Linked DNA regions of Homo sapiens. The protein of the gene in region 2 interacts with the protein of the main gene of each other region in a pairwise test. Each region holds a gene or a part of one and is shown on either strand. Other genes may lie near its edges. The genes, in order: ACCS, FBF1, CINP and TUBGCP4.

Region 1 (9,088 bases), on a different chromosome or scaffold from region 2:
CTGGGCCTAGCAACGTGCTTCTAATTAACAGAATAGGCAGATGTGATGGGATGTCACTTCCAAAGTTAGGTTATAAAGAGTCTGTGGCTTTCCATCTTGGGTACCATGACCCAAGTGATTCTCTCTTGAATCACTTGCCCTGAGAGAAGCCAGCTACCATGCCATGAGGCAATTCTGTGAAGAAGCCCACGTGGAGAAGGACTGAAGCCTGCCAATAAGCATAAGAGTGTCATTGGAAGTAGAGCCTCCCACCCAATCCCTTGGCCCCAAGTCAACCTTTCAGATGAGACCACAGCCCCAGCTTCATGGCACCTTCACAAAAGATCTTGAGGCTGGGCGTGGTGGCGTGGACTGGCACGGTGGCTTGGCCAGGCGCGGTGGCTCATGCCTGTAATCCCAGCACTTTGGGAGGCGGAGGCAGGCGGATCACCTGAGGTCAGGAGTTTGAGACCAGCCAGGCCAACATGGCAAAACCCTGTCTCTACTAAAAATACAAAAATTAGCTGGGCATAGTGGCACACACCTGTAATCCCAGCTACTCAGGAAGCTGAGGCAGAATCCCTTGAACCCGGGAGGCAGAGGTTGCAGTGATCCGAGATCATGCCACTGCACTCCATGGGTGTCACAGCGAGACTCCGTCACAAAAAAAAAAGAAAAAGAAAAAGGAAAAAAAAGATCTTGAGCCTGAGGCATCCACCAGGATTCCTGAACTCCAAAAATTGTGAATTGTTGTTTTAACTTGCTAGATTTGAGGTCATTTGTTATGCAACAATAGATAACTAACACAATCCCTCACTTTTTCCAGGTTTCTGCTCAAATGTTCATCTTATTAAAATAGCCTTCTGTGACCTCCTTCTACTAAATAGCAACATCCCCAGCCCACCCATCTTTCTCTGTCTTCTTTAACCTGGTTTATTTTTCTCTATAGTACTCACCACCATATAGTATACATATATTTTCTCTGTTCATTCACTGTTTGTCTCCCTAACTAGAATATGAGCTCTATGAGGATAAGAACTTTGTTTCTGTTCACATCTACATGGTAGATGCTCAACAAATAAAGATTATTAAAGGGTTATTTGTAACAGCTTTCTGACTTCTGAAGGCATTATGAGAATAGCTTATATTTGGGACAGAAAATAATAATAGCAGCTATCATTTATTGAGTAGCACTGTGCTAAAAACTTCATATACTTGCTCTCATTTAATCTTGACTCTTCTACACAACAGGTATTATTATCCCATTTTATTTTATTTTTGTTTGTTTGTTGTTATTTTGAGATAGGGTCTCACACCGTTGCCCAGGCTAGAATGCAGTGGCATGATCTTGGCTCACTATAGTCTCAACCTTCCAGGTTCAAGCAATCCTTCCACCTCAGCCTCCCCAGTAGCTGGGACCACAAGTGCACGCCACCACACCCTGTTAATTTTTTTATTTTTACCTTTTTGTAGTGATGGGGTCTTGCTATGCTGCCCAGGCTGGTCTCAAACTCCTGGCCTCAAGTGTTCCCTCTGCCTCAGCCTCCCAAAGTGCTGGGATTACAGGCATGAACCACCATGCTTGGCCTTATTATCTCATTTTAGAGATAACTTAAGATTCAAGGAAGTTAAGTAACTAGCTCAGCAACACACAACCTATAAGTAAAACAGTTGCAACCTGAACCTTAGTTCTGCCCTAGCTCTAAAGTTGGATAGTCGACAGGTCGTGGGTCAGAATCCATAGAACATCATATGGTTCTTGAATTCCTCCCTCAGAAATCAAGGTCCCCTATATTCTAAATGGACCATTTCCTGATCCAGGCAGTACACTGGGGCCTCTCTAAGCTACATCAGAAGCCCTCTTGGAGGTCAGAGTACCATAACTCCAACCTCATAAGAGCAGGCTGGATGCTGCCTTATTGGTCAAGGTAGGGTACCCCACCCTGCAGTTCTCTCTTGGGTCCCAGTGGGAGGGGAGCTTCACTCACACTGGGGTTCTTGTCCTCATCATACTCATCCATGTGGTAGGTCCTGTAGCCCTCCTCAGCTGAATCCCAGAACCATTTAATCATTCTTCCTCTAGAGGACAGGTAGGAGGTATCAGAGGAGATCATGGCAGGATCACCCACTCCACGGAGCTCTGGCAGCTTCTGGTCCAGTTTTCTGGAGCATTCTCCTTCCAGATCTTCCCCATGGCTACTGCCCAGGTCCTGCATGCAGGTGGGGCCCAGACAGGTGGTGGGAGCCCTGAAGTCCTTTTGAGGAAGGGTGAACATCTGCAAAAAGACAAAACGCACAGGCCTGCTCAAGGGATTTCCATAGCACCAAGCATCAGAAAGGAGTTGGAGTCATGGGAGTCCCCTTTCTCTTATCTGCCCCTTCCTTTAGGTTTATGCACTCATCACTTCCTGTGTCCCTTAGCTGTAACCATATGTGCAACGACTTCAACAAGAAAAATCTGTTAAGGACCTAGTACGTGCCAGGGACTGCACTTGCCACATTGACGTGACTTTAATGTATTGCTGCTTTAGCGTGTTCTACTTCTGCAAAAGTTTTTCACTCTCCAGCCTAAGGGGTCATCAACATTCTTTTTCCACCCTTGCTCACCTCAATTACCAAATGCCAGGTTAAAATTTCCTGAGTTAAAGCAGAGTATTGCCTGGGAGTCCTGGGGGTCTTGTGGTGTAAAGGGTAGGATGAGATTATGTGGTGTTCTGAGGCAGATGGCGGGTAGGAACTGAGGGAAGGGAGGAATGGGAACCTCCACAAGTGCAGGCAACCCAGGCAGAGCTCCAGGGCCTGCCTCTTCAGTCCTGAAGAAACGAGGTGTGGACACCAAGGAGAGGGTGGTCTACTCCTGCCCGCGGGTGTGAACTCCTTCACTTCTCTAAGCCAGTTTAGTTTCCTCATCTGCACAGTGGATATAACAGTAACCACCTCGGGGTGGCCGTGAAGACATAAATATATATGTTAGTGACAATAAAGTACTTAGAACAAATCCTGGCTGATGACCAAAGTTCAATAAAATATGAGTCATTATAGCGTAACTCCTTGCCAATTTTCCCAGTCCTGATGCACAACACAAGCTCTGGTAACACTGGGCGCACCATAAACTCAGCGGGTACCCGCAGTTAAATTTTCCTCCGCAAAGTCTTCTCAGGGGTACTCTTTAAATTGGCTGGGCTCTCCCAAGAGCGCTCACCTCCAGCTCTCCCGACAGCCCAGGTCCGAGGAAGGGCAGCACAGTGGGCGGAAGCCGGGGTGGGAGTAAAGCCTGGGGTAGGGGGGCGGCGGGGTTCGAGCCTCCAGGCGTCCAGCAGGACGGCGGCGAATCCACAGCCAGATACCCGCACTCGATGAGGCCTTGGAATCCCGCAAGTGGGGCGGCTACCGCGCACGAAGAACCGAAACGGCCTTCTACAGGGCGGAGGACGTCTCGCGAGAGACGGCTCCAGGTTTCCAGGCAGAGGAAGTGTGATCGGCGCCAAGGGATTCGAGATGGAAGGGCAGAGGCTTTTGCAAAGTGCACAGAGGGAGGCCTGAACGGCTTCCTCCTCTGCAAAGTAGTGGATCCCACCTACTTGGCGGAGCTGGAGGAGGCGGTGCTGGCACTCGGTGGGCGCCCATCACGTGTAGGTTTTCTCCGCCCGGAAACGCCCTGCGGCGACTTACGCGTGGGTGAGGACAGCGCCCCCCTGCGCTCAGCGCGCCCGGACTAGGAGACTGAGGGCGGTCCGCACCGGGTTGGGCTTCCAGGCCTGTTCAGGGCGCAGTTCGTCCCCTTGCCACTCAGGCGGGGGCGGTCTCGGCGGGGACTACGCTTTAAGGGTGGCACACGAGGTAGCACCGCGGGACCAGGAAAAGGGAAAGGGGCGTAATGCCGTTTCCCACCTCCACTCTGGGTGGCCTGCGCGTGCTGGGCCGCCGCCGGGCCGGGTCTGCCACCTCCTTCTGCCTCCTGGCCTTGGTTCTCCAGTTTTCAAAGGAGGTTAGAGCCACAGAAATTTCTTGCCAAAGTATGCTTGGCTGCGGCCCACACAAAGGGCTTTTTAGATTCGGGTGTGAGCATCCTTATGGCCTTTCATCGCAGTTTGTCATTTCTGCCCCTTTCATTTGTAGGGGATTTTCTGTAGCCCTCATAGGTTCTTAGTTGGGGGAGACTCCTGTTACAAAAGACAAATTAACAAGAGAAAAACAGACAGAAATTTACTGACATGTGTATTTCATTTATACATGAGAAATCTGGAGGGAATGAGTCGTTCTGGAAGAGGTGACTTTGAATTCCAGTTTTTATAGCATCTTCAACAAAGAACAGTAATTTTTTTAAGTTACAAGACAAAGAAATAGGGCTTTGAGTCTCTCCAGGAGGCAACTTGTGAGAAGGCAAAAAAAAAAAAAAAAAAAAAAGACAAAGGCCAGTTAGTCAAGCTTGTTAATGTAAATTCCTCTGGTACCATCTCCAGGCCATAGGGGTCTAAAGTTGTCTTTGTTCTCCTAGGTAGACAGAGGGACAGGATACCTTTTGTCTTTGTAAACCTGTGTCCTACTTTTAGGCAAATAGGGCCAGGGTAGAGAGCTTTCCTGAATGTGCTGCTGCTTGTCTTTAGCACAATCCTTCATGTTTTGGGGAGGCATGTCCTGGTCTCCCACACGTGCCTGCAATATTTGTTGAACTCTGGCTAGGTGTGGCGGCCCACGCCTGTAATGCCAACACTTTGAGAGGACAAGGTGGGAGCATCCCTTGAACCCAGGAGTTTGAAACCAGCCTGGGCAACATAGAGAGACCGTGTCTCTACCAAAAAAAGGTTTTTATGTTTTTTTGTTTTTTTGAGACGGAGTCTCGCTCTGTCATCCAGGCTGGAGTGCAGTGGCACAATCTCTGCTCACTGCAACCTCCGCCTCCCGGGTTCAAGCAATTCTTTTGTCTCAGCCTCCCCAGTAGCTGGGACTACAGGCACGCACCACCACGCCTGGCTAATTTTTGTATTTTTAGTAGAGATGGAGTTTCACCATATTGTCCCGACTGGTCTTGAACTCCTGACCTCGTGATCTGCCCGCCTCGGCCTCCCAAGTGCTGGGATGGCAGGCGTGAGCCACTGCACTCAGCCAAAATGTTTTTGTAAATTAGCCAGACTTGATGACATGTGCCTGTGGTTTCAGCTACTTGGGAGGCTGAGGTGGGAGGATCACTTGAGCCCAGAAGGTAGAGGCTGCAGTGAATTTGATCGTGCCACTGCACTCCCACCTGGGTGTTTGCGAGACTCTATCTAAAAAAAAAAAAAAAAAAAAAAAAAAATTACATACACACACACACACACACACACACACACACACACACATATAATTTCAAAAGTATTTTTCAAACTCTGCCCTAAGCTCTACATATTCTGGCAATGGGTACAGTGGGCACCCAGGTCCCAGGTAGAGCTGCAGTCTCTGAGGTGCCTTGAATGGGAAAGTCTTCTTTCCCCATGAAAGGAAATAAGCAGAATCTCTCAATACAGGTATGGCTGGGAAGACATGGCTGTCTTCTGGCCATTCCACTTCTTGTCTTCACTTTTGCCTTGCACTAGCTAACACTGTGACCTTGAGCAACTCTCATGACTTTTTTGGCCCTTACTGTTTTCTTCTGTAAGATAAGGAAGCGATTATTTTCCTCTATTTAAATCTTAATTCTATGTAATTCACATCTCAGTGAATGCCTGTTATGTGCCAGGTCTCTGTAAAATGCGAGGATACGGTGATGAGCAAGACAAACCAAAGCCTGCATGATTGATTGGGAAGGCCGACTTACAATGTGGGGACTATTTTAAAAAGACTATTTACTGGGTACCATGGAAACATGCAGCAGGGGGATTTAACCCCACGAAACAACAAACACAGGCACTTGTCCTAAGTGGAAGACATACACACACGTTACATTAAATGTGAATTGACTAAAGATCAATTAAAAGATCATCAGACTGGATAAAACAGCAAGAATCAAGCATATGGTGTGTGCAGGAGACACACTTTAAATACAAAAACAAATGGTCAAAGGTAAAAATGTGAAAAAAAACAAGCAAATAATAATCATGAAAAAAGCTGATGTGTTCATATTGGTATCTGATAGTAGGCTTCAAGACAAAAATAATTAACAAAAATAAAATGGGGCATTTTAGAATAAAATGATTAATTTATCAGGGTGACAATCTTAAAAGTTTATGCTCGTAATAACAAAGCTTCAAAATACATGAAGCAGAAACTGACAGAACGAAAAAGAGAAAAGACAAGTTCATAATAATTGGAAAATTTTATACCACTCTCTCGGTGATAGAACAAATGGATCAAAAGACACTAAGGATCAGAACTTTTGGACATTATACAAAAATTTAATCTAATTGACATTTATAGAACACCATCCCCAATACCACAGAATATACTTCTTTTCAAGTGCAAATGAAACATTAAGATAGACCACATGTTGTAAACAAATCTGGCCATAAACTGTCTTAATAAGTTTCAAAGGATTGAAACCATAGAGTACATTCTCTAGTCACAATGAAATTAAAGTAGAAATCATTAACAAAGAAAGCTGAACAGTCCCCAAATATTTGGAAACTAAGTTACATATGCTAAGCAAACCATTGATTTAAAAAAAGAAATCACAAGGGAAATTAGAAAATATTTTGAATGATTAAAAACCAGCAGATCAAAGTTTATGGAATGTAGCTAAAATAATGCTAAGTGAGAAATGAATAGCTTGTAATGCATATATTTGAAACCAACTTAAAACAAATGATCTAAGCTTCCACATTAATAAGCTAGAAAAAAGAGCAAATTAAACCCAAAGTAAATAGAAAGAAATAAAGATAAGAGCAGAAATGAAGGCGAAACGAGAAAAATCAATGAAACTGAAAGTTGGTTCTTTGAAAAGTTCAATACAGTTGATAAACAGTTAGATTGACTGATCAAAAAAACTCATTTTGTTGCAGAATTTTGCTCCTTAGTTCAGCTAAAACCGGGTTCTTGTCACACCACCAGGAAGGATTAGGAACATGGACACATTGAAGGGTGAGGGGAACGGAATTTACTGGGCAAAAAGGAAAAAAGAAAAATACTGTCAGCAGAGCAAGAGGGGGTCCTGCTAACAGGCCTCCAAACTCACATTGAATCCCAGGCCACCACACAGAAATTGAAGAGGCCAGGCTCCTCCCCGCTGAGCATGGCCACAGCTTCCCTTGGCTCCATCTTGTTCTCCCAGTGCACAGATGGGTTGGAGATTCTCCGGAGACCCTCCCCGTAATCCCCCTCCTGCATGTATCAATTTCAGTATCAGGAAAGGAAAAGGAGATACAACTAAAGATCCTAAATGTATTAAAAGGATAACAGAATATTTATAACCAATTTTAAGTCAATAATTAAACTTAGATGAAATAGACAAACTTTATTGAAAGGCACAAATAACCAAATCTGATACAAGAAATAGAAAACTCGAACTGTCACAGAAATTGAATTTATAAGTAAAAGCCGTCCCACAAAAAAAAAAAAAGAAGAAAAAAAAAACCTCCAGGCCCTTATGGTTTTACAGCTGAATTCAACCAAATATTTAAAGGTTGAAGAAGTTTTTGGACACAAACTTCTAGAAAATTCAGGAAGGAACAGTTTCCCAAACATCTATGAAACCAGTATTAATCATGATACTGAAACTAACAATGCATTACAAAAAAAAAAATTATAGAATGATGTCCTTCTTGAATGTAAACTTCTTAAAATAGCAAACCAAACTCAATGGTATATAAAAGGACAATGCATCATGACCAAATGGGGTTTATTGCAGCAATGTGAAGTTGCTTTAACATTAAGAAATCAATGTAACTTACTACATTGATAATCAAGAGAAAAATCATATCTCTATAAATGCAGATGAAAAACATCTAACAACATTGAACCCTCATACATGGTAAAACTCCCAGCAAACTAGTAATAGAAGGACTCTTTATTAGATAAGGGACAGAATGAAAAATACAGTAACGTTATACTCAAGAGCAGAAGATTGCACTCAATGCTACTAAGACTGAGAACAAGGCAGGCTGTCCTCTCAACCACTTTTATTCAACGTTATACTAGAGGTTTTTTAAAAAGAGCTATATCGGTCAGGAGCGGTGGCTCAGCTTGTAATCCCAGCACTTTGGGAGGCCGAGGCAGGCGGATCACTTGAGGTCAGGCGTTTGAGACAAGCCTGGCCAACATGGTAAAACCCTGTCTCTACTAAAGATATAAAAATTAGCTGGGCGAGGTGGCACGTGCCTGTAGTCCCAGCTGCTTGGGAGGCAGAGGCAGGAGAATCGCTGAACCAGCAGCAGAGGTTGCAGTGAGCCGAGATTGTGACACTGCACTCCAACCTGGGCGACAGAGTGAGACTCAGTCTCACAACAACAACAACAACAACAACAAAAACACACACATACACACACACACACAAGAAAACTGACAAGAATAAACAAATTTGGATTCGGAGCAAGTACGGCCACAAACCCAAGCGACTAAAGCCACCAGTTGGTACTGTGAGCTCTTTCTTCATCCATAAAATCGTAGTAGTCCCTTCTCTGCCCACTTCACAGTATCAGTGCTCTGACATGCAAGGGCTTTGCAGAGAAACTGATGGGTGGCTTAATTTGAACAGCTGAAAACATTAGAAATGGAAATGGACAACCCCAGATGCTACGAACTGAATGTGTCCCCCCAACATTCATATTTGAAATCCTAACCCCCAAGGTGATGGTATTAGAAGGTGAGCCCTTTGAAAAGTGATTGGGTCATGAAGGCAGAGGAAGACCTCTCACCTCTTCTGCCACATGAGATGACACTGGGAAGATGGGACCCTCACCAGATGCCAAATCTCCCAGGGCCTTGAACTCGGCCTTTCCAGCCTCCAGAACTGTGAGAAAGATTTGTTTCTAAGCCATCCACTTTGTGATATTTTCATATTATGAAGGGACTAAGACACCAAGCTTGTCAGATTTTTTTTTCTTTTTTGTAGAGACAGGGTCTTACTCTATAACCAGGCTGGAATGCAGTGGCACGATATGGTTCACTGCAGGCTTGGTCTCCTAGATTTAAGCGAGCC
Region 2 (8,195 bases):
TGGTCCAGCTGCCAGGTGCCACCGCAGACCGCAGGTGCTGGAGGGGAGAGGCACGTGGCCAGAGGCGCCTGGTCCTGACCAATCTTATAGGCTGATCTTTTAATAAGAACATCTGCCTGTTCTTTGGGACTTGTCCAGCAAATAACAGGAAACATTTTCTAAGAAATAAGTATAAACTCCGATGAGCCATGGCAAAAGCAGTTTTTTTAAGCTTAGTCAAGTTGAAGCAGCGGGAGTGGAGGAGGATCAGAGAAACCTCTGTAGTTGTGATTGGTTCCTTGTCGCCTCCACTGCGTACCCGCTGAGCTGGGCTTTGGGCAGGTGAGCAGCACAGAGGCTTCCCTCCTCGTCCCTCCCCACACCCCACCATCGCCACAGCTCCCTCCGCCGCCGGTGGGGCACCCAGATGGGGAGGAAGCTGAGGAGGCCACTGTTCACCCAAACTGGTTGGTCCTTCGGGCAATGCTGGGAATAGGGTGGGGGCTCTGGGCAAGCCCAGGAGGAGGAGGGCCTGGCTGAGTTCCAGGAACATCTCACACCACAAGGGAGGATCTAGCTGGTGCCCTCCCTGTACTGTCAGGAGGCCAGAGGGCCCTTCTCCAGCTCATCAGGGAGGGAACTGCTCTGGCAGGGAGTAGGGAAGGCTGTTTGTGGCATCCCTCAAGAAAGCTCCTGCCTCAGAAGAGGCCCAGGCAAAAAGAGCCCACAACAGTCTACCTGTGGAGCAGGGGGAGCCCACAGAGCCCAGGGGGAGCCCACAGAGCCCAGTGAGAGCTGGGGGTCCTTGCTGCCAACTCAGACCCTCAGATCCAAGCCAATGGCTTTGGGGCAGGGCAGCCAAAGCCATGGTAAGATAGCCTACACCACAGAGCCCCAGAGGCAGGGGCTGCCCCGGGCTGGCACATTTGGAAAGGATGCACTTGCACCCTGTCCACGGAAGAGCTGTCATCAGGCCTCAAGCATCTCAGAATCCTCCCCAGGCACTGCCTCCATGGAGGCAGCCGGAGGAACAGGACAGTTCTGGGGTCCGAACCCTCTGTTGGGGAATCGGCTGGGGTCCCACTCAGGCTGAATGAGATGTCAAATTGTAGGACCCTTTCTTCAGGGTCTCCAGGAAGAACTGTTCATTCTCCAAGAAGTCACGGTCCTGCAAGGCAGGTTTGGATGGGCGGTCACCTTCCCTGAGCTGAGAGGGAGGTGGAGCCCTGGATGCTAGCTGAGCCAGCCGTCACTGAGGCCCCTCCCCACATCGTCCCTGACTCTGCCTGGCTCTGGGAGTCAGCAGGGGCCATGAAAGAGCCCAGGTATGGAGTGAGACAGACCACAGTCTCAATCCTGGCAAGGTTACTTGTTTGCTGTGGAACTTACGAGCACATGACTTCATGTCTCTAAGCCTCAGTTTCCTTGTCTGTAAACATTCCTTGTAGCCCTTCCTTGCAGGGCTGTGTGAGGGTAAAAGCTTAAAAAATACACAAAGCAGGCCAGGCACAGTGGCTCATGCCTGTAATCCTAGCTAATCCGCAGGCCAAGGGGGTAGGATCACTTGAGCCCAGGACTTTGAGACCAGCCGAGGCAACATCGTGAGACCCCATTTCTAAATATAAATAAATAAGTAAAATATAAACAAAGCCTTCGGCATTGAGGTTGGCACACAGGAAATGCTCCATAATGACAACTGTTATCATTATAGTTTTGTTTTGTTTAGTTTGAGACAAGTGCCTTGCTCTGTCACCCAAGCTGAAGTGCAGTGGTGTGAACACACCTGTAGCCTCGACCAGCTGGGCTCAAGCAATCCTCCCACCTCAGCCTCCCAAGTAGCTGGGACTATAGATATGCCCCACCATGCCCAGCTAATTTTTAAATTTTTAATATTTATTTTTTTGAGACAGAGTCTCGCTCTGTTGCCTGGAGTGCAGTGGCACCGTTGTGGCTCACTGCAGCCTCGACCTCCCGGGCTTAAGTGATCCTCTTACCTCAGCCTCCGGAGTAGCTGGGAGTACAGGTGTATGCCACCACGCTCAGCTATTTTTTTGTGGAGACGAGGTCTCACTATGTTGCCCAAGCTGGCCACGAACTCCTGGGCTCAAGTAATCCTCCCACCATAGCCTCCCAAAGTGCTGGGATTACAGGTGTGAGCCACGCACCTGGTCCTCTTTTTTTAGTTTTTCATTTTGTAGAGACGGTGTCTCAACATATTGCCCAGGCTGGTCTCAAACTCCTGGGCTCAAGTGATCCTCCTGCTTCAACCTCCCAAAGTGTTGGGATTACAGGTGTGAGCCACTGTGCCCAGCCTGTTATCATTATTGCTATAGGTTATCATGAGGTTTAACTGAGATGACATATGCAAATTGCTTTGCACAGAACCTGGCCTAGTGTGGAAGTCTGAGCATTGGCTCACTAAGCAAACTGCAGTTTTACTCCCCAGGAGCTGGGGTCACCCCTCCCCAGGGCTACCATGTGCTCCTCCCTGCCTCTGCCCTGAGCTGGAAGGACTCGTGAACACAAGGATCCCCAAGGCCAGGAGAGACTCACCTGCTCTGCCATGTGCCTCAGCAGTGCCAGCCTGGCATGGAGGTGCAAGGGGCTGGGGTCCAGGCCAGTTGGCGGCTGGCTGCACCAACGGGTGGTGGGAGCAGGAGGCATGAGGGCTGAAAAGGCCAAGGAGGAAGTCAGGGACCAAAGTGTTGGTGGAAATACCGGGCGGTCACAGCTTGTTCCTGCAGAGCTGCTCCCCCCGCCAGTGGGTGGACCCTGGCCATATACTCAGGGTGCAATGGCACTAACTCTCAGAAGCCTCTGGCAAATGCATACCTGCTCCTACCTGGAAAGACCATTTATAGGAATTTATTCCAGTGAAATAATCAGGCAAAGGTACAAACACATATGTAGGAAGATGTCCACTGGGTAGTCTTTCTCTTTAAGACAACAAATCACTCAGCACAGAGCAGCCTCACAGTGGAAAACTGTGCTGATTGGGAATTGACTAAATGTTTAATGACTGATCTGAAAACCTGTTCCACGTGTACATTACTGAGTAAAAAAAGTAAAGTTATTGAAAAACACATACAATCCTAATTTTGTTTTTAAAAACATGTACCAGGCTGGGCGCGTTGGCTCATGCCTGTAATCCCAGCACTTTGGGAGGCCAAGGCGGGTGGATCACCTGAGGTCAGGAGTTCAAGACCAGCCCGGCCAACATGGCAAAACCCTATCTCTGCTAAAAATACAGAATTAGCCAGGCATGGTAGCACATGCCTGTAATCGCAGCTACTTGGGAGGCTGAGGTAAGAGAATCGCGTGAACTCAGGAGGTGGAGGTTGCACTAAGCCGAGATCATGCCACTGCACTCCAGCCTGGGTGACAAGAGTGAAACTCCATCTCAAAAAAGAAAAGAAAAAAAAAGTACCAGAGTGGAACATTATGCACCAAAATGTTAAAAGTGAAAAGTGGTTCTCTCAAGACTCAGGAGTGGCGTTGAGGGTGACTTTTTTTTTTTTTTTTTTTTTTTAAACGGAGTCTTGCTCTGTCCCCTAGGCTGGAGTGCAGTGGCACAATCTCGGCTTACTGCAACCTCCACTTCTCGGGTTCGAGTGACTCTCCTGCCTCAGCCTCCTGAGTAGCTGGGATTACGGGCACCTGCCACCACACCCGGCTAATTTTGTATTTTTAGCAGAGACGGGGTTTCATTATGTTGGCCAGGCTGGTCTTGAACTCCTGACCTCAGATGATCCGCCTGCCTCGGCTGCCGAAAGTGCTGAGATTATAGGCGTGAGCCACCACGCCCAGCCTGACAATGACTTTTTTTATTTCCTTTTTTTTTCCTGAGTCCAGAGTTACAAAAAGGTGACATTTTTCATAATAGTGTTCCTCTATTTCTGATTTATCTAAAATTAACACACATTATTTGTGTAAAAAAGAAATAAGGCGACTATAAAACCCAGCTGGCCGCCTTAACTGGAGCGGCTGGAGGAGGGCCTGCCCACTCCTAGCACTGCCCCTGCCCAGTCCTGAGCCGCCGGCCCTTCCTTCTGGAGCCACTCACCACTCTGGCTGGAGGCTGCAGGGCCCTGGGCCCTGGGGAACAGACCCACGAGGCTAGAGGGCAGGTCCTGTCGTGCGCGGTCCAGTTGCAGCCTCTGCTGGGCCAGACTCAGATGCTCCTGTCCCCGTTCCCCCAGAAAGAAGGACTCAGCTGTGAGGTGGGAGGCTGGGGGTGCCGGGGGCAGGGGCGCCATACACTCAGGGAGCCTTGCCTGGTGCATGTGCTGCTCCTGCTTCCGCAGCCGCTCCTGCTGTTGCTGCACCGCCTGCAACCGGGCCTGCTGCTCTGCCTGCACCTGCTGGGCCTCGCGCAATGCCCGCTCCCCCTCCTCGTACTTCTCGGAGGCCACCTGCAGGGAGGCCGCCTGGGTCAGGGCTGCCTGGGCTCAGATGCGCCCACGCCCATGTGCCCGAGCAGCACCTTGCTCATGCTCTCCACCTCCTCGGCGCGGAGCTTGACACGCAGGGCGGTGGCGTTGATCCTCTCCTTCTCCAGCCGCAGCTCCTGCCGCTCCTGCTCCAGGGCTGCTCTCTCCGCTGCCAGCTGCTTCTCCTCGGCCCGGAGCTCGCTGGCCCTGATCTTCAGCTCAGCCTGCTCCTGGAGACAGCGGAGGCCCTGCTGCATTCTCCTCCCAGGAATTGCGCTGCACTCTGTGCAGGACTCTAGGGTCCCCTCTGCCCACCCTGCCCCTGGGAGGAGGTGGTGGAGCCAGGGGCTTCCAGGGAGAGCCAGAGAAGCCTGGGGCCAAGCCGGAGTGCTGCCCTCACAAGCCACGTGACTGTGGCAGGCTCAACTCTGAAGTTCGGTTTCCTCATTTCTAAATGACCAAAGTCATGGGAACATGAGGATCAAATAAAATGTGTATAATGCACCTGGGACAATACGAGGAAGATGTTAGCATGATGATGCGATTACTGTTTTAATCCCTATGCTCTTGTGACATTAGTGCTACACTCTCCTTTCCTAAGACTGGAAGCGGATGTGTCCAGATGGAGGGGCGCAGGCAACCCTGGGCCCTCCACTGTCCGGAGGCTCTGGGCCCTACCTTGGCCAGGCTGATGAGGGTGCCCTCCCGCTGGGTGTCCACCTGCAATGCCCGCTCGGCCTCGCGCTCGGCCCGCTCCTTACTCAGCTTTTGCTGCGCGGAGAACTCCGCCCACTCGGCAGCCAGGCGCCGCCGCTCCTCCCCGCACTTGAGCATGACAGACTTCTGCTCCTCCAGCAAGGCGCTCTGGGATGTGGGGGTGAAGGCACGGGGTGAGTGTCCCTGGGCATAATGGCAGGGGCAGGGGCTGAGTGCGGTGGCTTGACTCACCTTGGCCCGTTCCAGCTCCGCCCTTTCCATGGCCATCTGCTGGGCCGTGACCTTCCTTTGCTCCTCTAGGGCGCGCTGCATGGACTCCGCCTTGGACTGCTCGGCAGTCACCCGCCAGCGTTCCTGTAGGGCCCAGGGCAGGACTGAGAGCGTGGTTCCCGCCCTGAGGATCACGCCTGGCCACTCCCTGAGAAGCTGCATGAACCCACCAGTGTCTCCCACACTATGCCACTGACACGTCCTTCCCAAAGAGGCACAAAATGAGGGGTGCCTGGGAGGCACTGCCAGGGCCCAGCCCGCACGATTCTGCCCAAGAGAAGGACCCAGCAGGTGCCCTCCCAACCCTCAGGTCTCCAACAGCACCAAGGCTAGCAGCTTGGGAGGGCCAAAGAGCAGCAACATCCCTGCCGCTGAATCGCCAGCTACGCACTCTGCCTGTCCTCACCCATCAGCCAAGCAGGCTAAGCACAGGGTGGCTTAATGCTGTGCTGTGGGCCCAGCCACACACAGCACAAGGCGAGAGCTTCACTGTGCCTGACCCCAGGCAGATGCTTAACACAGTTACCAAATGAAGAGGCGAATCAAAATGCTTCACAACATAAAAGCATCTCTATCTACGTTGACATGGCTACAGGATAGATATCAGGTCAGCAGTGGACATCTCTGACTAGTGGGATATTTTTATTTTCTTCTTTAAAAACATTTTTTTGGGCCGGGCACAGTGGCTCAGCCCTATAATCCCAGCACTTTGGGAGGCTGAGACGGGTGGATCACCTGAGGTCAGGAGTTCAAGACCAGCCTGGCCAACGTGGTGAAACCCATCTCTACTAAAAATACAAAAATTAGCTGGGCGTGGTGGCAGTTGCCTGTAATCCCAGTAGCTCAGGAGGCTGAGGCAGGAGAATCCCTTGAACCCAGGAGGCGAAGTTTGCAGTGAGCTGAGATTGCGCCACTACACTACAGCCTGGGTGACAGAGCGAGACTCTGACTCAAAAAAAAAAAAAAAAAAAAAAAAGTTTTTGGCTGGGCATGGTGGCTCACGCCTGTAATCCCTGCACTTTGGGAGGCCAAAGTGGGCAGCTTGTCTGAGCTCAGGAGTTTGAGATCAGCCTGGGCAACATGGCAAACCCCCGTTTCTACAAAAAATACAAAAAATTAGCTGGGTATAGTGGCATGCACCTGTGATCCCAGCTACTTGGCAGCTGAGGTGGGAAGATTGCTTGAGCCCAGGAGGTTCAAGCTGCAGTGGGCTGAGATCTTGCCACTGCACTCCAGCCTGAGTGACAGTGAGACCCCATCTCTAAAAAAAATTTTTTTTTTTGGCCAGGCATGGTGGCTCCCACCTGTACTCTCAAAATGTTGGGAGGCCTAAGTGGGCAGATTGCTTGAGCCCAGGAGTTCAAGACCAGCCTGGGCAACATGGCAAGACCCACATCTCAGTAAAAAATACACAATTAGCTGGGTGTGGTGGTTTGCGCCTGTAGTCCCAGCTACTCAGGAAGCTGAGGCAGGAGGATGGCTTAAGCCAAGGAGGTCAGGCTGCAGTGAGCTATGATCACACCACTGCACTCCAGCCTGGGCAACAGAGCAAGACCCTGTCTCTAAAAAATAACAGTGCTTTGTAAAACCTTAGAAGATGATAACTACTAGCTGAGGACAAAAAGATAGGTGGGAGGACAAGGAAGGCTTTGTGGAGGTGGTAGCATCGAAAGATTCATTACCATTGAATTCAGCCTAGAAAGATTTCCACAGGTAAGGAAAAGGATGTGAGCAAAGGCAGGGACTGCAGGTGTGCACCACCACACCCAGTTAATTAAAACAAAATTTAAATGTTTTTATTATTTATTTTTTTGAGACAGAGTCTCGCTCTGTTAACCAGACTGGTGTGCCATGTTATGATCTCCACTCACTGCAGCCTCTGTGTCCTAGATTCAAGCGATTCTCCCACCTCAGCCTCTCTAGTAGCTGGGATTACAGGCGTGCGCCACCACGCCTGGCTAGTTTCTTATTTCTTTATTTTTAGTTTCACCATGTTGGCCAGGCTGGTCTCGAACTCCTGACCTCAAGTGATCCTCCAGCCTTGGACTCCTGAAGTGCTGGAATTACAGGCATGAGCCAACTTGCCTGGCATAAAAAAATTTATTTATGGTCTCGCTAGGCTGGTCTCAAATTCTGGGCCTTAAGTGATCCTGCTGCCTCAGCCCCCCAAGTAGCTGGGATTATAGGCACAGGCCACTGTGCCTGGCTAAGGTCATCATTATTTAAATAAAGCATGTGCTTATATATGAAAGGTATCTAGGGAATTCAAATGTCTCTGTGAGAGCTGAAGAGGCTAGGATGACATTTAATGGGCAAGAGCATCTGTCCCAATGTCAGGCCTCAGCTAATGTGACAGATTCGAGTGTCAGGAAGTGGGAAGTGCAGCTGATGGTTGCGGGGGCTAGACTGCGGAGGGCAGCCAAGGTGGCCGAGGGGCTTGCGGTGCTGAGGAGCGGACAGGGCGTGGTGGGGGGCCTGGCCAGGCGGCCCCTGCATGCTCAGGTGGGCAGTGCTGAGAGCCTGGCCAGGGCAGGGAGATGTAGAGGCAGGAAGCGGCAGGTGGGGCCTTGACCTCCTGAGGAAGTGAGGTCACGGGAGTGCCGCTACACTTGCGGGTGCCCTGGAGAAGAGGCCCCGTGGCAGGAGGGGCAGGAGGGCCAGGAGGACGGGCCTCACCTGCTCCAGCAGCCGGCTCTGCTCATTCAGCCGTGCCTCCATCTTCCCGATGACCTCCTGTTGCCGGCTCCGCTCCTCCTCCATGTCCCGCTGCTGCTGGCCCAGCCGCTCCTGCAGTGCTGG
Region 3 (6,304 bases), on a different chromosome or scaffold from region 2:
GAAACCCCGTCTCTACTAAAAATACAAACATTAGCTGGGTGTGGCGGCGCGTGCCTGTAGTCCCAACTACTCTGGAGGCTGAGGCATGAGAATCGCCTGAACCCAGGAGGCGGAGGTTGCAGTGAGCTTACATCGTGCCACTGCACACCAGCCTGGTGACAGAGCGAGACTCCATTAAAAAAAAAAAAAAAAGTAGGCTTTTGCATACCTTCACATTCTCCCCATGCCCTAGCTTTTGGCCAGTCTCTTCGGTCTGTTTCAAAACTGTCACCTTTCCCTCATTCTAACCTAGTATGTTAACTCTGGAAATGGCTGCAAACATTGTGAAACTCGAGGATTTGTGTCAGAAGAATGCCAGGGAAGGCAGTTTACATCGCTTGCCATGTCCCCAGTATGCAAACAGCGGCAATTTTTTTGTAGGTTATTTTCATTTTCATGATGTCAAACTTCATTTTAACTCCATGGGATCTTATTATTTAAGACGAAGTCTCACTCTGTCGCCCAGGCTGGAGTGCAATGGCTCACAGCAGCCTCTGCCTCCCGGTTCAAGCCATTCTCCTGCCTCAGCCTCTCAAGTAGCTGAGATTGCAGGCACGCGCCACCACGCCAGCTGATTTTTGTATTTTTAGTAGAGACAGGGTTTCATCATGTTGGTCAGGCTGGACTTGAATTCCGAACCTAAAGTGATCCGCCCACCTCGGCCTCCCAAAGTGCTGGGATTACAGGCATGAGCCACCGCACCTGGCCCAAAAACTAATATAGTCTCATAAAAACTTCAACAATCAGATAGGCATAAAGTAAAAATATTAAACCAGGGATTTTCTACACAAACATAATGTATAAAGCATGCCTAATTTATAGAAACTAGATCACTCACTCATTCTGCTCAGAAACTCATTGATTTTACTCTGAAGCACCCACGAATGACAGATTCCCAGGAGGGGCAGAGAAGGCTGAGCAGCACCACGTGGGGCTGGCCGCGGGTTGTGGGCATGAGCACGCCTGGAGAGGCCATGGGGCTGGTGACAAGCTCTGGCCAGAAGACCCCAAGGTCTGATCCTGGGGTCTGATCCAGGCCTGCGGCACTGGGTCCTAGGCAGACTGTCTGCCTGGTGAGACGTGGAAGGAGCCAGTGTCCGCAGCCGTCTCAGGACGTCAGAGAGCTCGGTGGCCTGTCTCCAGCAGCATGCTCTCCAGATGCAGCCTGCTGTCGCTCTCCACATAGGGCTGGTGCAGCCACATGGACAGGTAGCTCAGGGTGAGGTCGGGATCCCCGGTGTGGGCAAGCTCCTTGGCCACCGTGCGCTTCAGGAGCAGCTCCTTCCTGTACATCTCCAAGAGCTTATGCGAAACCTCATCTGAAAGAAACGTGAATCTCCCTTAATGGCAGTGATTCAAGAACATAGTGTCGACTTGGGAAGAACTACATTTTAACAGCTCTTGATTAAAAACCAGAATCAGCAACAGCACTGAGGGGAAGAAGGGCCCGATGGAGTTTACTACTCTAGCTGGTGCAGATTAGTACAATTTGATAACATGGTCAGCAGAGTGAAATAAAAAGTGTATACAAGCCGGGCGTGGTGGCCCACACCTGTAATCCCAGCACTTTGGGAGGCCCAAGTGGGTGGATCACCTGAGTTCAGGAGTTTGAGAACAGCCTAGCCATCGTGGCGAAAACCTGTCTCTACTAAAAAATACAAAAACTAGCCAGGTGTGGTGGCACGCACCTGTAATCTCAGCTACTTGGGAGGCTGAGGCACGAGAATCGCTTGTGCCTGGGAGGCGGAGGCTGTAGTGAGCCAAGATTGCACCACTACACTCCAGCAGGCGTGACAGAGCGAGACTCTGTCTCAAAAAAAGTATATATAACCTTTTCTACTTGACTCTTAGGTGACCTACAGTGATTATCAGTAGGAGATTCCCCTCAAACTGACAATATTTCACTAAACACATTCCACTAGGTGATTTTACCCTTTCCTGCCTTATTTAAAAAGTCTCAGGTCAACATCAAATAGCTTACCCTTGTCTTGAACTAATAAAAGCTAAAAGTAACCCTTTAAGAAGCGCCTCATAGAGTTTACTGAAGCCATGGGTTTCATTTTTCCCAGTCATCTTCCATGAGGTTGGCTGCAGTGACCCTCAATTTGTTTTTTAATTAAAACAAAAAACAAAAGAAAAACCTCAACAAACCAAAAAAACTCCTTTCTTCCTTTCCCCCCCTCAAAATGAGAGATATCTGCTTCCACAGAGGAGGTGGAATTCACTCTGCCCATTGGTTTTAGAGGCCTAATAACAGCAGCTTGCTTCACGGGTCTCTATGTTTCATATACTCTGCTGATAACCAGGTAATTAAAGCCAAGAAGAAATGTTTAAGATGCCTCTGTCTCCTTTCCTCCCGATACTTTTGCATTGAATTTGAAAGCCTTGTCAGCTTCTTAAAGTACCAGATGTAAACGATACTAAATGCCCTTAATAACCTTTACCCTCCTGAAAATCAACTGAGAAGGAACTACTTACAGAAATGGGTTGTAGGCCACGTGTGGAACAGAGGGGGTCGTTTACTCTCCTCCCCATAATGGTAGTTTTCTAGTTCACAAATTCCCTTGGTAGTTGAAGACAGCTTTTCCATTTTCACCTGTATTTTGGTCTGAAAGATATCCATTTGGAATATGATAATATTATTTGAAATCTCCAGTCTCAGATTTAATAACTCTAAGATTTCAAAGCTAAGAAGTGTAAGTCTATTATGATAAAAATTCCAATAACTAAACACTGTTAACTCTACGTACAGCAAATTCCCAGGGAGATGAAGGTGGACAGTTGCTATGATTTCATTAATTTGAATGACTTTGGTAATAAACCCCAGATTTCCAGTCCTAGAGCAAGAAAGGTTTCCGAGTGCCATTTCACTAGGATTTCCAAACAGCATTAATGTCTTAGACCCAAAGACCTGGAGGAATCCCAAGGCAGGCTCTTGCTGCCTTTTTTTTTTTTTCTTTTTTTTTTTGCGACAGGGTCTCATTCTGTGTGGCATGATCATGCCTTATGCAGCCTCAACCGCTGGCACCTCAGCCTCCCAAGTAGCTGGGATCACAGGTGTGCACCACCACACCCAGCTAATTTTTTTTAATTTGTGGAGACAGGGTCTCGTTATGTTGCCCAGGCTGGTCTCTAACTCCTGGGCTCCAGCAATCCTCCCGCCTCAGCCTCCCAAAGTGCTGGGATTATACAGGCATGCGCCACCGCGCCTGGCTGGCTCTTGCTGCTTTTAAGAAGTGAGAGAGAAAGGCATCAAATGAGCTCGTTTCTGATGCTCTCTCTCTCTCTCTTTTATCAAATGAGCTCGTTTCTGAGGCTCTCTGTCTCTCTATCAAATGAGCTCGTTTCTGATGTTCTCTCTCTCTCTCTTTTTTTTTTTTTTTTTTGAGACGGAGTCTTGCTCTGTTGCCAAGCTGGAGTGCAGTGCCAGGCTGGAGTGCAGTGGCGAGATCTCGGTTCACTACAACCTCTGATTCCCTGGTTCAAGCGATTCTCCTGCCTCAGCCTCCCAAGTAGCTGGGATTGCAGGCATGTGCCACCACGCCCAGCTAATTTGTGTATTTTTAGTAGAGACGGGGTTTCACCATGTTGGCCAGGCTGGTCTTGATCTCCTGAACTCGTGATCCGCCCACCTCGGCCGCCCAAAGTGCTGGGATTCTAGGCATGAGACACCGCACCAGGCCTGACTCTCTCTTATTAACTGCCTTTATTTACGGAAACCTCCTTGACTTCCTTGTTTATAAAATGGCAACACAGAAAGGGAGCCCTACACACTTCACGCAGAAAGGAAGGAAACGTGGCAAGCTGCCATTGACGGTCCCTCAGTGTGGACCAGGCTCTGTCCTAAGCCCTGTAACTGCATGATGTGTATGGCTACTTGTGGGAGACACTAAACCAACCCCACTGCACACACCAGGCAGCACAGAATAGGGGCAATGGCGGGCTTACTTTCACAGCTTGGTGAAGAGGATTAAGTGAGTTAGTATTTGTGAAGCACCTACTTGGAGATATATAAGGGTTGGATAAAGAAAATTAATGGGTGAAGTAACTAGGATTTCAGATTTAAGTAGCATAGGTCTATAAAGACCAAATTTTGAACTCCTAAGTATAGTTGACTTTACATACATAAATATGAAAAAGGGGAAATAAGAAAAGATATATAAATTGTCAAATATCTTAATTCCTTTACTTGGTCCTTCCAACCACCCTCCAATTACATTGGAAGTGGCAAGCACTAAATTCAGCTAACGTTAATTTTTAAAGGACTTTACTTAAGTAGTTTCCCAAATCTTTTAAGGTTTGATATTTTATTTGGCCCAACCCCAAGAGGCAGGACTTGTCATTTCCGTTTCACAGCTGGGAAATTGCTTAAGGTTGAGCTGAGGAAGGATGAGGCCAGAACTCGATACCATGCCTTCTGACACCAAGTTTTTTTGTTTTTGTTTTTGTTTTTGTTTTTTTTGAGACAGAGTCTCGCTTTGTCACCCAGGCTGGAGTGCAGTGGCGCGATCTCCGCTCACTGCAACCTCCGCCTCCCGGGTTCATGCCATTCTCCTGCCTCAGCCTCCCAAGTAGCTGGGACTACAGGCGCCCGCCACTGTGCCTGGCTAATTTTTTTGGTACTTTTAGCAGAGCTGGGGTTTCACTGTGTTAGCCAGGATGGTCTCGATCTCCTGACCTTGTGATCCGCCCACCTCAGCCTCCCAAAGTGTTGGGATTCCAGGCGTGAGCCACCGCGCCCAGCCGACACCAAGTTTTAACACCCAATCCTCTGCTCTTTCCTGTGAGTCCTGCAGCAGCTCCCTGGTGCCACCTGATTCTAAGAAAAGCTGATAACAGGAGACTAAGGAAAATTCTGGAGCCTTGACCCCAGGCAAGAAGTCATGCTCAATCCTGCAGCTCAGCCATCAATAAAGAATTCAAGTCACATAGGCACGTGCAGCCCTGAATGAACAGTGCATAAACAGCAGGCCCTTACATTTCAACATCGGTGGCTTCTTCCCACAGCAAACACAGACCACAGTGAAATGTTAGCCCAGCTTAGGAAGAACGGTGCATGAAACCCCCAGAAGGTCAAAGTTATGAAAGACACAGACCAGGTCTGGAAACCATTCTCTATAACGGATAGAGGAAAATAGGAAAAATAATAATACCCTATAAAATCAACTTTTGGTTTTGAACATAGAATGAGAACTTATTCCCAAACCACTTTTCTTTTTCTTTTTTTCTTTTTTTTGACACGGAGTCTCACTCTGTGGCCCAGACTGGAGTGCAGTGGCTTGATCTCGGCTAACTGCAACCTCCGAAAGTGATTCTCCCGCCTCAGCCTCCCAAGTAGCTGGGATTGCAGGCACCTGCCACCACCCCCAGCTAATTTTTTGTATTTTTAGTAGAGATGGGGTTTCACTATGTTGGCCATGCTGGTCTCAAACTCTTGACCTCAGGTGATCCACCTGCCTCGGCCTCCTAGAGTGCTGGGATTACAGGCATGAGCCACTGCGCCTGGCCAAAACAAAAATTAAAAAAAAACAAATAAAAATACAACAATTAGCTGGGTGTGGTGGCAGGCACCTGTAATCCCAGCTACTTGGGAAGCTGAGACAGGAGAATCACTTGAACCCAGGAGGCAGAGGTTGCAGTGGGCAGAGATCACCCCACTGCACTCCAGCCTGGGCAACAAGAGTGAAACTCCATCTCAAAAAAAAAAAAAATTAACAAATGGGAGGGAGGGAACAAATCTCCCACGCAGAATAATTCCAAATAATTTATGTAGATACTGCACCCTCAAGCAGGTGGTGAATACGTCCCTACCCCCAGGTGTGGGCTATGCATAGTGACTTCCTGCCAAAGAGCACAGCGTGGGAGGAGGAGAAAGAGCAACGTCACAGCAGAGGAACCTGGAAACACTGCCCAGCCAGGTGATCAAGGTCAACTTCAGCAGTGGAAAGTCCTGGCTGTGCACAGTGGCTCACGCCTGGAATCCCAGCACTTTGGGAGGCTGAGGTGGGAGCACTGCTTGAGCCCAGGAGTTTGAGACCAGCCCGGGCAATAGGTGGGACCCAAAGAAAAGTCCTGATGACAGTATATCCAGTACGTGCCCTTGATATGACATGATAGAAATGGCACTTTACTTCTGTGGTCCTCCTCTGAACAAAACCCGTAACCTCAGTCTAATTAGGAGAAAAACATCAGATAAATCTCATGATGTTCTACAAAATACCTGACCAGTATCCCTCAACATTGTCAAAGTCATCAAAAACAGGGA
Region 4 (8,195 bases), on a different chromosome or scaffold from region 2:
GCAGTGTAACACAGCTTACCAGTGTCTTCTAATTGCGGATCAGCATTGTCGAACCCGGAAGTACTTCCTGTGCCTTGCCAGTGGGATTCCTTGTGTGTCTCATGTCTGGGTCCATGATAGTTGCCATGCCAACCAGCTCCAGAACTACCGTAATTATCTGTTGCCAGCTGGGTACAGCCTTGAGGAGCAAAGAATTCTGGACTGGTAAGTATTTGAAGCCCATCCAGAATTGTATAGGCAGGAGGACAGCAAGCTTTGGAGGGAAGAGAATCTAGGTGAGAGAGTAAAGCTTTCTAGAAATTGGAATGTCTGTGGGATAAATTTGAGTGGGTTTGAAATGACTTCAGGAGTTTATCTAGTTTATTTCCCTAGGTTACATTGGCTAGGAACCTTTTGCAAATGTGTGAAGATTTGTATATAGGTTCAATATTCTCAACCTGTAAAGTCAGAGAACTAAGTTTTAAGCAAGCATTAAAAATATATAGGCTCAGGAGCATGATTTGGATTATTCTCAGCCCCAGAACAAACATGGAAATTAGAAAGCCAGGAATGCAAGGAATACAGATCATTCATAGAAAGAAGGAAGAGAAGGGGGACCCTAATATAGGGCTTAGTTTTTTAAGATGAAGTCTTGCTCTGTCACCTAGGCTGGAGTACAGTGGCGCAGTGACGACTTACTGCAGCCTCAACCTCCCAGGCTGAAGTGATCCCCCTACCTCAGCCTCCCAAGCTGCTGGGACTACAGGCACTCGCCACCACACCCAGCTAATTTTTTTGTTGTCTTTTGTAGAGATGGGGTCTCACCACATTGCCCAGGCTGGTCTCGAACTCCCAGGCCCAAGAGATCCAACCACGACAGCCTCCCAAAGTGCTGGGATTACAGGCTTGAGACACTATGTCTGATGGGGCATTTATTTTTGAAAGCATTCAGATGTACATGAGTCCCTTTGCAGAAAGGCAGTTTGTTGGATATTACTTGTCATGCTAAGGTCCTTTCCTGTCTCCTTCATAGGCAACCCCGTGAAAATCCTTTCCAGAATCTGAAGGTACTCTTGGTATCAGACCAACAGCAGAACTTCCTGGAGCTCTGGTCTGAGATCCTCATGACTGGTGGTGCAGCCTCTGTGAAGCAGCACCATTCAAGTGCCCATAACAAAGGTACCTGAAAGAGTGTGTGTAGTGTCTTTGTTCCAGGGATCTCCTTAGACCTGTAGGTGTTAGGCCTTGTGGTCCAAGGCTCAGGCCTAATAGGTTGACCGTATCCATGTTTCTTAGAGAAGAAAAGTACCACCTTCAAGAGGTGAGTCAACATAAGTGAAGCACTGGACGTATATTTGTTAAATATTTCTACAAGGTCAGCACATAGTGATTATAACTCTGCCTTTGGTCATGATCAGTAGCAGTGTGTTTGACATAATAGGGCTTTGGTTTGTGCAGAGTGGGATGTATTGGTTAGAATCAAATCTCTCTTTCTAATGGAGGGCTAAGTTGAGTGTCCTTTCCTTCTTCACTTTCCCTTGCTCCTTGCAGATATTGCTTTAGGGGTATTTGATGTGGTGGTGACGGACCCCTCATGCCCAGCCTCGGTGCTGAAGTGTGCTGAAGCATTGCAGCTGCCTGTGGTGTCACAAGAGTGGGTGATCCAGTGCCTCATTGTTGGGGAGAGAATTGGATTCAAGCAGCATCCAAAATATAAACACGATTATGTTTCTCACTAAAGATACTTGGTCTTACTGGTTTTATTCCCTGCTATCGTGGAGATTGTGTTTTAACCAGGTTTTAAATGTGTCTTGTGTGTAACTGGATTCCTTGCATGGATCTTGTATATAGTTTTATTTGCTGAACTTTTATGATAAAATAAATGTTGAATCTCTTTGGTTGTAGTAACTGGGATTTCTTCATCTGTTTTTTTGAGCTTAATCTCAGAACAAATGACAAGACATAGTACTTTCTCTGAGTCTTTCAACAGGCTTATTCACTTACGGAGGACAGCTGGCCAAGGAAATTGAAAAGTTAAGAGTGAACTTTATTCTGTGGCATCATTCCCAAAAGGTTATTCCAGGGTGTCTAAAATGCTATGCTTGCAGAAACTCAGTTTAAGGTAGGTGAAGGCCCAGATTAACAGTTGTGCCAAAAGTTGAGTGGAATTGGGCACAGCTCTGTTTCCTGACAGTTAAAAAAGACCTCATGCTCTCTCTCTGAGCTGAGATCACAGCTCACCTGTGGGTACTCCCCAACTCTTAGAGCTAAAGGGAGAACGAAAGGACCAACTGCCATGAAGGGACAGTGACCATAAGCTTGATGGAATGACCTTCCGTAAGATAAACATGGGAAGCACAAGTGAGAACACCTGGAAATGTTACACGTTCTAGTCAAAGACCCAATATTATTATTATTATTATTGTCACAATAGCTGGAAGCAGTTCCTTCCCTTCCTCTGGCATCACTGATCCCTGCATGGCTTCTCATTCTCTAAAGCAGGGGTCAACAAGGTTTTTTTCTGTAAAGGGTCAAAGAGTAAATATTTCAGGCTTTGTGGGCCATTTGATCCATCACAACTACTCGCCTTTGCTGTGAGGGCATGAAAGCAACCATAGACAATGAGTAAACAAATGGGCATGGCTGTGTTTCAGTAAAACTGTACAAAAACAGACAGCAGGCCATAGTTTGCCAGCTCCTGCTCCAGAGACAGCAGTAGAAAGGGTGATCTTTAGTTGATAATAGCAGGGAATAAGTTGTCAGAGCTTCCCAGTGTGTGTAGAATATGTAGTGATGAAAACCAGATGCAGTGACTATAACCTGATGCCAGAACACTGCATTCTTTTTCAGTTTGGAGGGCGTTGTTCAGTGAATATTTCTTTTTACTTACACTGATATGAATATTGATTACCAGTGATGGCTGGGCCATATTAAGATAACTTCAACCCCTATGGTTTGTGTAAGATGGGTAATTGGGCCTGCAATCTTCAGTATTTAAAAATCTAACAACTTGATCTCAATTTTTTCTTAAGGACCTTTTTCTTGGAGAATAATACTTTTTTTTTTTTTTTTTTTTTTTTTGAGACGGAATTTCGCTCTTGTTGCCCGGGCTGGAATGCAATGGCACAATCTCAGCTCACTGCAGCGTCTGCTTCCCAGGTTCAAGCAATTCTCCTGTCTCAGCCTCCTGAGTAGCTGGGATTACAGGCACATGCCACCACACCTGGCTAATTTTTGTATTTTTAGTAGAATCGAGGTTTCATCATGTTGGTCAGGCTGGTCTCAAACTCCTGACTTCAGGTGATCCGCCCGCCTCGGCCTCCCAAAGTGCTGGGATTACAGGTGTGAGCCACCATGCCCGGCCTAAGAAATACTTTTAAGTATATTTTCATTAGCTAGAATTGCCCAATCTGTGTAGGTATAAATTACTTGGTATAGGGAGAGAGAAAGCCTATCTTACCTGTTGCTTTCTTACTTGGTGGTAACATCCAGCAGTTAGTCTATTTATAAACATAATTACTTTTTCACATATGAACCATAAAATATTTAACTTTCTGCTCTATATTGTTTGTTTACCGCTGTATCTCCCACAGCTTGAACAGTACCAAGGTACGTAGTAGGTGCTCAATAAATGACTATTGAATAAATGAACATATCCAACAAATGTTCTCAATGTAAAGGATCAGAGATGCCACATGTTCTCCTTGATGGGAGAGACCCTTCCACATGGGAATGATGGGAAGGAGTTGTACTCCTGGATGTTCAGTAACTGCTTCTAGGAGAAAAGGTAGAGTCCTATCACTAAGCCGCAGATATTTATTTGTGTGTGGCTAGAATGGGATGTTTTGAATCTTCTGTTACAACCTTGGGAACGTGGCTGTTATTTCAATTTATGAGCCAGAAATTTTCACATCCCGAAACTACAAAAGAGAAAAAGAGCCTTATTAAGTGTCATGCTTTCCCAAGACTACCTTCAAAGAAATATGAATCAGGATAACCTGTGATCTAAATAATGTCATCTTAAAACTGAAGAGTTTCTTTTGACTCTTCTGCTACAATAGCTTAGAAAAAAATCTGCTTGCAGACATTTTAGAGAGAAAGGACAATGAAGTGATTTTCTGAATGGGAATGACAGACCTCTGGGAAGCCAGCTACCACTGAATCTCGGTATCAGTTTTTTTTAAAGTTTAGAGTTAGAAGGGGTGGTCGCCTCCTTTCACAGATGCGGAAGCTAGGGACCAGCAAGGCGGGGTGCCCACGGCTGCACAGCTAGTTCATATCAGAATTGGGAGTGGAAGGCCCACTGCCTCCCAGCATAGCAATACATAACCTAGCAAAGGACTTAACACCTATCTCACTGTCAGGTTTTTTAGTATTTTATGATGATGATGACTTCTACTAGAAAATAACCTCCATTAAAATTATTAAAGATGGTCACACCTCTATCTCTAAGCCTTACTTATAAAATGAGGGTATTTGGACTAAAGTCTTCTTCCAGTTCTAGAATTCTACAACTCATTAAAAAGCCACCTTAAAAAGTCTACTGAGTTACCCAAGGGTTGCTCCTACCTGCCCAGAGTTCCACCAGCCTGGGTATAGTATTTGTTATAATCTAGTCGTAACAGTAGTTGAGCCAAATCTGAGTTGATCTGATGATTCCGAACACTGGAGAGAATCTTGAACAGGAGTGAAGACTGGCGGCTAAAGCCCTGCAGAGAGAAGGACTCAGCTGTCATTCCACTTCAGCTCACCAACTCTCCATATGGAGGATGGGGGCGGAGGGAGGAGTTTCTTGGAAAAGCCTTGTTCAAAATTCTACAGAACCACCTGGCCTTCCCACATTCCTATTTCTATTAGTTCCTAAAATGACTTGTACCAAATCCATACATGCATGACTTCCTATGAAAGTACTCTTTCATCAGTAGGAATTTAGTAGCTGGTTTCCAGTTAATGTATTTTGTCAAGTACTGGGGTTGGGGAGAACCCGTTTTGATTACAAGCAGATAATTATCTCAGTGAGATGGGGGTTAGTTCAAGGAAGTAAGGAGGGGGGAGGATGTGAGGAAGTTAGAACAACCCAATGCTTATTTGATGGGCTGAATAAACTATTCAGGACTGAACTATTTTTGAGCACTGTGAGGTGGCACAGTATTACCTGCTTCAAAATCAACTGATACCAACATTTTTATCTTTGTATCTTATCTCTGTACGTGTGTGTATTGAGGAAATGCTTTACTGACTCAGAGGAAAGATCATGAATTCTCCATTGGCAAAACCACCTCTGTCCTTTCGGCAAGGCTGCATACTTCCAGGCAGACGCACCTTCACGAGAATGCTCAGCTGGGCGGCTCCACGCTCATCCAGTGGGCCTAGGTTCTGACTGACCAGCGAACAAAAACTGTGACAGAGATCTAGGATTTCATTCAGGCAGTGAAACACCTACCCGGGAAACAGAGTTGGCATTAGGAAAGGAAGGAAGGTACATCCATGAAGTTAAAGTGTTAGGAGAACAGTCTGATTAATAGCTGATCTAATTAATAGCTGACCTCCCAAATCTGACAGGATAGACACTGCCACGTGCAAGGCCTGCCAGCCCCTCAGACGCACAAAATGCGTAAAACAAATGCATCCTTTCCTGGCTAAGCGAGTATTACTCTCTTAGCCCTGCACCAAACCTCCAATCTAGCCACATTTAACTCTTCATTTCTTAGACCCGCAGAGTGTCTTCCTGCCTCTGAGCTGTGAGTGTTGTTCCCTTTGCCCGGGATGCTCTTGTTTTTAATACCAGTTCAAGTCCCACTCTCTCAGTGAAGCACTCCCTTCCCCACTATAGCCTTTAGTGAACCCTCGTTTCTTGCTTCTTTATTATCTGTACTGTTGTCCACTTGGCAATTGTTCAGGCCTCTGTGTTGTTACTGATTTTTGTATGTATATATATATATATGTCTTGTTTTTCCAACTAGATTGTGAGCTCCTTAAGGGCAGAGCCATGAATTATACCTCTTTGTATCCCCAGTGCCTTGCATACAGTAAGCACTCAATAAATATTTAATGATGATGACCTGCTCTGTTATTCTGCTTTTCCCTATGGATACATCTATGCCACATAAGGACAGCATCTACCCATCACAGTAGTTCTTGGTTGTTTTCAGCCAGCCCTCTGGAGTGGCATCTATTAATATATATCTTACTCTTCCTGGTACAGCAGAAATAGCCCTAAACACCAGAACATTTTTAAAAAGTCTGTAACAGCTGTGCTGTAGCACACTGAGGAATAACAACCAGCTCATGTCAGAGGAGGCATAACCGTTCCATTAGAAACTACCAGAGATCATTTCAGTCTTCCTGTTCTTTATCCTGGAATTGGAACTAGCTTGTGAGCTTTAAAAAAAATTAGTACCTGGGTCCCACTATTACAGGGATTCTAATTTAAGTGCTCTGTCACCTAGATTTTTTTAAAGAGTCCCGATGATTCCAATGTGCAGCCAAAGTTGAAAATAACTGCCACGAAGGAGACATATATGTACTTACAGAAACACATACATAGATCGAGAGAGAAACACTACTCTAGTTGTCTATGAAAAGAACTTTCAAATGACTGATCCATCCTGGTCCAAAAGATTTCTAAGAAGGTGAACTCTATATGCTTTTCATTGGTTTTTCTGTATTGTCAGCAAGAATTTTGAGTTTCTTTAACTCCTGAGGGTTTAAGCACATAATTCTTTCATCTGTAGCTGCTCACCACACCCTGTATTTCAGAAATTCAAAGACATCTTAGGTCCCGTTTAACATGCCTTTTTAGTTTTGCTTTACACATTCTTTTTTTTTTTATCTGCTCCCCCAAGACAGAATCTTGCTCTGTTGCCCAGGCTGGAGTGCAGTGGAATGATCTTGGCTCACTGCAACCTCTGCCTCCTGGGTCCAAGCAATTCTCCTGCCTCAGGCCTCCCAAGTAGCTGGGATTACAGGCGCGAGCCACCACACCTATTATTTTTTTTTTCTTCTGTATTTTTAGTAGAGACGGGTTTTCACCATGTTGGCCAGGCTGGTCTTGAACTCCTGACCTTGTGATCCGCCCACCTCGGCCTCCCAAAGTGCTGGGATTACAGGCATGAGCCACCATGCCCCGCCGCTTTACACATTCTTAAAAAATGTTTTAAAATGGACTTGAATAATTGCTTAATGATGGTTTCGTATCCTGTCAACTCAAACTGCCTAAGGGAATGGTCAGTGGTAGAAGCAGTCTGAGGAAACCAATGAGCCTTACTTACAGGTTTCAATAGGATAAAGGATTGAGCCAGCAAATTGCTCAGGAAGTGGTCATGAGCCAATCGGATGCTTTCAAAGTCTCGGGTAGAATTGATCTGATGAAGCAGCTGGGAGAACTGAGACTCCAACACATCTACCTGATAGACATTACAAAAAATTTTAGCACTTTGCATATTCTAAGCACTCGAAGACATTAAGATGCCTGACAGATTGAAATGAAAATGCTTTGCCTCCACTCATCTTCCTTCTAACCAAGTCACATTAAGGCTGACCAAAGACACCCTTATATTGCCCAGCCTTGTAGGAAGTTATTTGCATAATTCTGAACCCCCTCCCTCCAACGTCCTGGCTGACCACTCTCCCCTGCCCCATCCTTTTCTCTTTTTCCTTTTTTTTTTTTTGAGACGGAGTCTTGCTCTGCCACCCAGGCTGGAGTGCAGTGGTGCGATCCTGGCTCACTGCAACTTCCACATACCAGGGTTCAAGCAATTCTCCTGCCTCAGCCTCCTGAGTAGCTAAGATTACAGGTGCCCGCTACCACGCATGGCTAATTTTTGTATTTTTAGTAGAGAAGGGGTTTCACTATGTTGGCCAGGTTGGTCTCGAACTCCTGACCTCAGGTGATCTGTTTGGCTCAGCCTCCCAAAGTGCTGGGATTACAGGTGTGAGCCACTGCGCCCAGCCTCCCCTGCCCCATCCTAATCCACTCATGGCCACATTCCGTCTACTGACTGACTTGGTCACCTACAGGATTCCAGAAGTTATAGCAAACAATAAAAATAAGGGGCAAGTCAACAATAAATAATAGATTGTTGATGAGGATTCTTTAAAATGCCTTTAAGAGGCTGGTGTGGCGGTGGTTCATGCCTATAATCCCAGCACTTTGGGAGGCAAAGGCAGGAGGATCATTTGAAGCCTGGAGTTTTTTTTTTTTGGAGACGGAGTCT

The links.
Region 1: the proteins of FBF1 (region 2) and ACCS interact in a two-hybrid assay, tested with the Homo sapiens proteins (2 studies listed by BioGRID and IntAct).
Region 3: the proteins of FBF1 (region 2) and CINP interact in binary tests that used the Homo sapiens proteins (3 or more experiments, as listed by UniProt).
Region 4: the proteins of FBF1 (region 2) and TUBGCP4 interact in a two-hybrid assay, tested with the Homo sapiens proteins (2 studies listed by BioGRID and IntAct).

What each region holds. Positions count from the first base shown.
Region 1 is NC_000011.10:44,060,795-44,069,882, reverse strand, and holds the start of ACCS (1-aminocyclopropane-1-carboxylate synthase-like protein 1), read right to left. Parts: upstream 3,614-9,088; 5' UTR 3,182-3,613; exon of another isoform or gene 2,890-3,181; coding exon of another isoform or gene 2,587-2,889; intron 2,256-2,586; coding exon 1,968-2,255; intron 1-1,967. UniProt on the Homo sapiens protein: Does not catalyze the synthesis of 1-aminocyclopropane-1-carboxylate but is capable of catalyzing the deamination of L-vinylglycine.
Region 2 is NC_000017.11:75,909,660-75,917,854, forward strand, and holds part of FBF1 (fas-binding factor 1), read right to left. Parts: intron 8,192-8,195; coding exon 8,073-8,191; intron 5,481-8,072; coding exon 5,358-5,480; intron 5,274-5,357; coding exon 5,088-5,273; intron 4,640-5,087; coding exon 4,463-4,639; intron 4,392-4,462; coding exon 4,254-4,391; intron 4,161-4,253; coding exon 4,043-4,160; intron 2,649-4,042; coding exon 2,533-2,648; intron 1,148-2,532; coding exon 1,064-1,147; 3' UTR 1-1,063. UniProt on the Homo sapiens protein: Keratin-binding protein required for epithelial cell polarization. Involved in apical junction complex (AJC) assembly via its interaction with PARD3. Required for ciliogenesis.
Region 3 is NC_000014.9:102,347,402-102,353,705, forward strand, and holds the end of CINP (cyclin-dependent kinase 2-interacting protein), read right to left. Parts: intron 2,648-6,304; coding exon 2,518-2,647; intron 1,359-2,517; coding exon 1,156-1,358; 3' UTR 881-1,155; downstream 1-880. UniProt on the Homo sapiens protein: Component of the DNA replication complex, which interacts with two kinases, CDK2 and CDC7, thereby providing a functional and physical link between CDK2 and CDC7 during firing of the origins of replication.
Region 4 is NC_000015.10:43,400,906-43,409,100, reverse strand, and holds part of TUBGCP4 (gamma-tubulin complex component 4), read right to left. Parts: intron 7,386-8,195; coding exon 7,251-7,385; intron 6,041-7,250; exon of another isoform or gene 5,419-6,040; coding exon 5,302-5,418; exon of another isoform or gene 4,689-5,301; coding exon 4,549-4,688; exon of another isoform or gene 3,900-4,548; coding exon 3,887-3,899; 3' UTR 1,719-3,886; coding exon of another isoform or gene 1,531-1,718; 3' UTR 1,167-1,530; coding exon of another isoform or gene 1,013-1,166; 3' UTR 205-1,012; coding exon of another isoform or gene 5-204; 3' UTR 1-4. Other genes in the region: TP53BP1 (TP53-binding protein 1), read left to right, coding at 5-204, 1,013-1,158, 1,531-1,718. UniProt on the Homo sapiens protein: Component of the gamma-tubulin ring complex (gTuRC) which mediates microtubule nucleation.